Homo sapiens: one gene and its partner. The protein of the gene in region 2 purifies or fractionates together with the protein of the main gene of each other region. This does not show direct contact. Each region holds a gene or a part of one and is shown on either strand. Other genes may lie near its edges.

The links.
Region 1: the proteins of PHETA2 (region 2) and RIC8B purify together in Homo sapiens (affinity purification with mass spectrometry; one large-scale study listed by BioGRID and IntAct). This does not show direct contact.

Annotation. Positions count from the first base shown.
Region 1 is NC_000012.12:106,844,066-106,847,880, forward strand, and holds part of RIC8B (chaperone Ric-8B), read left to right. Parts: intron 1-3,815.
Region 2 is NC_000022.11:42,072,750-42,077,213, reverse strand, and holds the start of PHETA2 (sesquipedalian-2), read right to left. Parts: upstream 2,967-4,464; 5' UTR 2,873-2,966; intron 1,644-2,872; 5' UTR 1,562-1,643; intron 1,156-1,561; exon of another isoform or gene 1,053-1,155; intron 1-1,052. UniProt on the Homo sapiens protein: Plays a role in endocytic trafficking. Required for receptor recycling from endosomes, both to the trans-Golgi network and the plasma membrane.

The DNA of each region.
Region 1 (3,815 bases), on a different chromosome or scaffold from region 2:
ATCTTTGAAATCTTCTTAATCAAGAAGTGTGTATTTTTTGAGTCATTCATTCAGCAAATGCTACCGAGATCTGCTGTGTGTGCTGTGTTTTGGGCATTGAACAACAGATGAAGTCTTTCCCCTTGGGAAGTTTATTTTGTAGAGAGGGGGACAAAAAGTAAACAAATTTAAAATATAATGGCAGGTGGTGATAAGCATTCTGAAGAAAGGTAAAGCATTTTAAGAGAGAGGAGACACTTTAAGGGAACAAGGGAGGACCTCTCTGAGATGACATTTGAACAGAAAGGTGGAAAAGTAAGAGTATCTCTGAGAATGATTGGAAAGGAATGTCCCTGAGAGAACAAGTTCACAATCCCTGAGACAAGAGGATGCTTTGGTACACTTAAGGAAAAGCAAGAAGGCCTGTGTGACTAGGCCACAATATGCAAGGGGGAGAGTGGTAGATAAAGAGAGGTAACAAGAGCCAGATACAGCAGGCGGTGTAGGACTTTCCATTCTCTTCTAAGTGAGATGAGAAGATATTGGAGTGTTTTAAGAGGGGAAGTGATGTGACCTTATTTATGCTTAAAGATATCCTGGCTACTATTTGTAAGATTGACATAGTGGAGCACAAATGGATGCAAGGAGACAAGTCCAAAAGATAACTGATGTTGCATGTTTGGAGTAGGATGGTAGTGGTTAGAGTTCATACTTGGGGATATGTTTTAAATATTTTAATATGTCTTAAAAGTAGCTCACAGAACTTGCTGATAGATTGGAGTATGGGTTGAAAAAGAAAAAATAAGGGTGATTTTTAAACTTTCAGATTATATCTTAGACTACAAGTGTAAGACTTTGATTGTAACAATACCTGAAACTAGCCTCCTCTAAAATCCCAATTTCAAGCACCTTCTCTTATTTAGTACCCTCAATCCAACATTCTTTCTTCCTCGGAGGATTGTCAGTCTGTCATTTTTTCCCACTGTTCTTCACTCACTTGTGCCTTCTCTCCTTACCCAGGCTAGATTCCACCTGAGGTTCATTACTATAATCACTCCTTTCCATACATCTCTAACTAGCACCTTGTGCGCTCCCTCAGTCGTACTCACCTGGCAAAACCTAACAAACTGGCTAACTCCAGCTTTCTTCCTACTCTGGGTCTCCACCAAGCACTTGAACATGATAAGAGAAAATGACACAACCATTTTGACGAGTCTACTTTAAATTTAAGACCACCAGCCCCAACCGGTTCCTTAGCAAACTCCAAGATGACTATTTCACAGCTTTTCTTCACACCTCCAATGCTTACTGCCCTCTCCTCACTCTCATTTCTTGACTTTGTTTCCTGTTTCATCATGAAATTAAGAAAAAACTTTATCTTTCCACCATTGCATCTGCTATCTGTCTGCATCTATACTGCCATATCCCTTGTATTCCCATCTGTCACAATGGATGAATCATTGCTACTTCTGTGGCCAGCATTTGTCCTGGATCTCTTTCTCTCTCATTAACTTTGCACCTGCATTTATTTCCCCTCTCTCTCTTCTTATATTAATCATTTTAAAAAATGTATTGGATCATTTATCAGCACCCAAACACATCTTTCATCTTAAAAACAAAAACACCTTCCCTTATCCCACTTCTCAAGCTGCCTTTCTATTTCTATGCTCCTCTTTATGCAGTGTCCTCAGAAGAGTTCTCTGTACTCACTCTCTCTATTCTTTTTACTCGTTTTTGACTCCTAAACCCTCTGTAGGCTACATGCCTTCCGCCCCACTGCAAAGGTGTTTATCAGAGTCACCAACTCAACTTTGCCAAAGCTAATAGTTCTCAAGTCTCTTTTTTTAAATTCTCCAATAGAATTTGATGTAAGTATTCCCTCCTCCTTGAAATACTTTCTTCACTTGGTTTCTAGGACACAATAGAGAACCTCTTTGTTGATCTTCCTCGTTTTCCTAACCCTAAATGTTTGAGTGCCCCGAGGCAATACTATCTTGTCTCTATCTCTGCTGCCATGGTGATCTCATTCAAGAGTCATGGTTTTGAAAATCATCCATATATGCTGATGACTCTCAAATTTATATCTCCAGCCCTGACCTGTCACCTAAGCTCTAGACTTATACAGTGAACTGCCGACTCATCTCCTCCTCTTGGATGTATAGTAGGTATCTCAAGTTTAACATACCTCAAACTAATATCTTGATTTTCATCCCTCCAACCTATTTCTTCCCCTTCTTTCCACATTTCAATACGTGGTACCACCATTCACCCAATTGTTCATTTATCACTACATAGAATCTCCCCTAATAAATGAACCAGATTCATTTTTTCCCTCTGTATTTATGGTCAAGATTTAGTAAGCACCTTACTGTATCTAGAAACACTAATAGGTAGTGCTGATAAGGAGAGATTAGAAAATAGAGACCATCTTTGAGGAATTTACAGTCTGTTGAAAGAAGAGAAATACCCAGAAAGCATGAATAATGATTTAGGCAAGATTAATTAATTAATTAAGGTCATTTCCACATTTGATTATTTTAAGACATTCTCCCTTGACTAGGAGGAGTTGGTGAAGCACAGTAAATGAAAATACTTTTTTTCTGCATTTTCGCTTTTTTCCACAAGGGATCCAGGTACACCTAAACTGTTTAGATTTTGCTATCTCTAAACAGAACAGCCAAAAAAAAAAAAAAAACCTATTAGTTAAATACTTCTTAATATGAAGGCCTTGGGCCACATATTGTGTCATTATAAAAGATTATGTGACCCACTGTCTGTCTTCAAGAAACATTACAGTAGAGGTATGGAGATGAAACATGACAGGTAAAAAGATAACTAAAGATACAAGGCATAATACAGAAATCAACTTTCCTTCTGAAGAGGATGCACTGTAGACTGTTATGATCAAGAAAGGCAGAACTTAAAGTACAGATGATTAACTCTGATAATAATGTAAGTGGAACCTTGATTTATTATTATGCCCTGTAGTAAATACCTGGTTAAATCCAACTCATGCCTATCCAAAGGAAATTGGTCTATATTCTGTGTTTGGGAGGTAGAAAAGAAAGCAAGTGGTAGAAATTACTGACCCAGGTTGTATTATTCTGGAGAGGCTTATAGAAGCAATGAGTATTTGGGGGATTTGAAAAAGAAACTGGACAAGATTTGTCAAAGAAAAAATTTGTTGGAGGTAGTATTCTAGGGGGAAATACATAGGCAGTTTGGGAGTGGTATATAACAATAACAACAAAATTTTGTTAAAAATTTGTTTTAAGGAACCAAAAATGTAGCTAACAAAATTTTTACATGATAACCTTTGTTCATAGATTCTGTACTCGAGGTACTATAGACATATACTACATGAAATCATTTGTTACATGTTTCATTCTTCTAGAAATGGGAGACGTACTAAGTATGGTTCAATAATGGTTCACAGTAGTAAGGATTTGTTGTGCAATTACTTTGTGCCTAGCATTTTGTTCTACCCAGCCAGAGACTGAAATATGGATTCCATAAACACTTTAGATAGGTTACTCAATTTTGTGAGATTTAGTTTCCATTTTTGTTTATAGCTGTGTCTCCCCTGCCTCTGATATCTCCTGATACATGGTGGATACTTGACATAGAAAGAGAGAGAGAGAAGAAAGTCATTTGAGTGGATCAAGTAAAATTATATATACATAAAGGATCTGGGATATAATAGGTGCACAGTAAGTTCTTATTTGACTTCGTGTCTGCCCTCATTTCTTAGCACAGTGCCTAGCTTATATAATAGAAGGCACTTAATAAAAGCTTCTTGAATTAATTCATTTTTCCTTCAACCAGCAAATATTCAT
Region 2 (4,464 bases):
CACCGGCTCCAGAGGCAACCTGGACCCCAGCCCTGGGACTCCTACTCGCTTGCTGTGTCCCTAAGGTCCCTAAAGTCTCCTGAGAAGTGGGCTCGTCTTTCCTTCCTTTTCTCTCAAAGGGATGTCGTGAGGATCATGCAAAAAAAACTGGACACTGGCGGACTTCGAGAAAAGAATAACGAGATTGCATCAGACAGGAGGCATGGCAGGACCTGGGCACGGCTTTCTAAAATCCAAAGAAACAGGCCCCAGCTGAGCTGAAATGGACCCCAGACCCATCGAAACCACTGTGCTTAAACTATCCCCTCATCTGGGGTCCTCTCAACTCCAACTCTGAGGCCAAGCTTCCAGGGTTTCCATGACCCTCCTGGGCCTCTACTGGCCTCTTATTTGCATATAGCTGTTGAATCTTATTGACCTACAGGCAGAAGCTGAGGCACAAATATAACTTTAAAGAGTTTACTTGAGCGAGAGTAAGGATAACTGCCCAGAACAAACTTCTAAGTTGCCGTGGGGTGTGCTGCGTTGGGCCTTTCCTACAGGTTTTTATAGGCAGAAGGGGGCAAGGATGACAAAGTTGTTTGGCAGGAATTCTCCTTGGTTTATAGAAATAACATTGATTGGTGGGGTGCGGTGGCTCACATCTGTAATCCCAGCACTTTGGGAGGCCGAGGTGGGTGGATCACCTGAGCTCAGGAGTTGGAGACCAGCCTGGCCAACATGGTGAAACCCCGTCTCTAAATACAAAAATTAGCCAGGCACGGTGGTGGGTGCCTGTAATCCCAGCTACTCGGGAGGCTGAGGCAGGAGAATTGCTTGATCCCAGGAGGCAGAGGTTGCAGTGAGCCAAGATTGTGCCATTGCACTCCACCTGGGTGACAAGAGAGAAACTCCATCTCAAAAAAAAAAAAAGAAATAACATTGATTAGTGATTGGCTATACATTGTTGAACTATAGGGTATGAACTATAGGGTGTCCAGTGTACAGCATTTTATGGCTACTTGGTGTCACTCTAGAGCCACATAGCAAGTGGCTTCAAGAGGTAATTCTTGATCCTTTTGTAGTTCATGAGCGTGATGATTGGGTGTTCACATGCATGTGTGAGCTGTGCCACCCTCGAACCTTGTTACCATGTAGGCACATTACCGATCTGACATGAAGAAAAGAAAAGAAAAAAAAAGAAAAAGAGATAATTCTTTAGCTCAAGGGAGGAGTAAGACTTGACAGCTGTTGCGTTTCAGTATGTCTGGGCCTGATTATTTAAAGGGGCTCCAATTCCTCAGATAAAACATTATTTTTCTGTCTCAATCTGCAGCCTTCAGGGCCAGATGGGGAGCTACTCTGTACACAAGAGTGTGGCACAAACCCAGGGTACAGCTGAGAAGAGCTAACCACAGCCATTGAATGTGGGTGCCCCCAGCATCATGAACGGCACTTAGTCCAGCTGTCCTTACTCATGGAAAACCAAGGCCCAGCGCAGTGAGGGGAACTTGCCCAAGGTTACATGGCCAATGAGACGCAGAGCTTCGTCTCCCAAATCCCTCACACTGTACCCACTTACCAGCAGGGCTCACTGGGGGAGGGCAGGGACCTCTTGTCTGGCCACACAGCTCAGCCCTTCGACCACCTGGTTCCCAGGGAACCTGCAAAACAATTCTCAAGCCCAGTCAGCTTATCCCAAAGAATGAGAACTCCTACTCCACCTTCGAGGCCTAATGAAACCACAGCCTCCACCGGGAAGCCTTCCCTGACCCCTGAGAATCCCCCCACCCATCCACCCAGCCAGGAACCCCTGAGCAGCTTAAGGGGATGGGTCCCCTTGTCTTGACCTTTACTCTTCAGACCCCAGCTCCCTGCCTGAGTCCAGGTCAGAGCTACACATGCCCTCATGGTTCCTAGCTTTTCCCTTCTAGCACTTCCTGGCTTTAACTGAAGTCACCTAATCTGGGAGGCCTTCCATGATCACCATATCATCTAAGGTGGCCCTGACCACCAAGGTGGCCTGACCTAAGGTCACCTGACCAGTAGACCCCCCCATTTCTGGTTTGTTTCCTTCATCCCACGACGATGTCATATGTGTTTACAGCACTGTTCCCAGCCCCAGAATGTCTAGGGTGGGGCTCAGCTAAGTTCCCAGGAGAACCCCAATACCCAGCACCGTGCAGGGCTCAGAGAGGCCCTCAGGAGGGATCTGTTGAATTAATGGGGATACATCAGTGGACAAATCGAAGTCTCCCGCCCTCCTGGAGCCTACATTCCCACAGGGGGAAACACACTGTAGGCAAACAAAATAAATACTAATAAATTAATGAAAGAATAATTAGTGAAATAAGAGATAACATAAGGACCGGTAATGCTAAGGGTTATGGAGAAAAACAAGCCAGGCCCCTGGATGGGGAGAGACGCCATTCCAGTAGGGGGGGCCCAGGAAGGGGGAAGAGATCACAGATGTTTGCCAGAGGAGTGGCCTCACTGGGGGTCCTGGGCCCAGCACTGGGGCACAGGGAGGGGGTGGGCAGCCCGTGGGGCCATGACCCCTCCCCTCCCCCGCGTCTGGGGAAGGGCGCTCCCTCCTCTCCACCAGTAGGGGGGCCAGGCCACCGCACACCGGGCCTCCCGCCCGCCCCACCGTCTTCCTGGATTCTTTTGTTGGAGGAGAGGCGGGCTGGGGGTGCGGGACCGCCGGGCCAGTGGCCACTGCGGGGAGCCCCAACCCGGTTGTCGCCCTAAACAGAGGTCACCTCGGTCAGGGTCTCCCTGGCTGCCGCCTTGGTTTCCCCGTCCTCGCGTCGGGGCTGTTCGCCGCCACTTCCCCGCGGCCACACCTTCCCTGGGGCCACCTCCTCCCGGAGCCCGCCGGGCCCACTCTCACCTCCCGCCGCCGATCGCACCGAAGCCCAAGAGGGCGATCCCAGCTCGAGATCCCGCGCCTCCGCCTGGGCTGCAACGTGGCCGCGGGAGCCGGGAGACCCCGCCCGGGAGGCTGGAGTTAACGCCCCTCCCCGCCCAGTATTCGCCAGGCCCGGGATCTCCGAGGCCGCCTCGAGGTCTGCCAGGGCGGGAAACTGAGGCCCGAGAGGGCGGTGAACTGCCCGAGCCACAGCACTGGTCGGTGCGGGCGGCCTCGAACCCAGAGGCCCCCCTCGGACGGTCCGCGGGCCTCGGACCCAGCCCACCGTCCGGAAAACTCTGTCCATCTCTTCCTCTCTGGTCCCCCTCTCCCTGCTCGGCCCACTTTCCCGGCAGAGCCAAACCAGGGATGTCTCTGGGTACCTCCCTAGGGTGGGCTCCTACACAGCCCGCGAGGGCCAGCCAAGCTTTGTTGGCCACCCACCGGGCCACCGGGGTCGGCTGATTTCTGCCTCTGGAAATTACCCATTTCTGCTTCCCTGGCCTGAAACCCACCGGCAGCCCCCAGGCTCTGCACTAGTGGGTGGAGGAGGAGGCCTGCGGTGAAGGTCGCAGGAATGCACAACCAAACCCAAGAGACTGGAACTTCTGGAAGGCCCTGGAAGCCGGAGGTGTCCTCAAACATCTGCCCATGAACCTGGCTCCCGCCTCAGAGCCTTTGCCCTTGCAGTTCCTGCAGCCTAGAATGGCCTTCCTTCCCACCCCCAACCGCAGCTCCACTCCTCAGGACGCCTCTGGACACAGATTTGAGTCTCTGCTCAGTGGTCTCCTCTGGGACCATTGTAAAGCAACCTGCCCTGCAGTCTCTGTCCCATCCCTGGGGTGTTATTTCCATCAGAGCACTCACTGCTAGAGTAAACTTTCCTATGCTCATGCTTTTATTTTCTTGTTTATTGCCTGTCTCCCCTACTAAATTTTATTCAGTTAATACTGTACACCATAATAAATGTGTTAGAAGATAATAAGTGGCATGGAAAAACAGAGGAGGGTAAGGGAGATGGGAAATTGTGGGAGTAGGGAGGTTGCAATTGCAAATAGAGTGGTCAGGGTAGGCCTCACTGAGAAAGTAACATTGGACAAATACTTGAAGGAAATGAGGGAGCCAGCCATGCCAATTCCAGGCAGAGGGAACAGTCAGCGCAGTGGCCCTCAGGCCTGTTGTGCTTGAGGACCTGCAAGAAGGCCAGTGAGGCTGGGAGGCCTGGGGAGGGGCAGACAGTAGGAGGTGGGGGTAGAAGGGGTGGGATGGGGCTCTGTAAATCTGGGAGGGCTGTTACTCTAGACAGGGCTGTGAGGAGGGACCTGAGCGATTTCAAGGCATACTCTGGCTTCTGTGGTGAGAATCAATGTCAGTGGAGGCTGGAGACCAGTGAGGAGCCTGCTGCCACTATCCAGGCGAGATGTCACAAACGCGGCAAGAGCGGGGAGGGAGAGGCAGCCAGAATTAGAATGGCTGTTGAAGGTAGAGAACACAGGATTTGCTGAGGAGTTGGATGTGGGGAGTGAGGGAAAGAGCAGGCAGGACTGCACAGTTTTGGCTTGAGCACCTAGGAG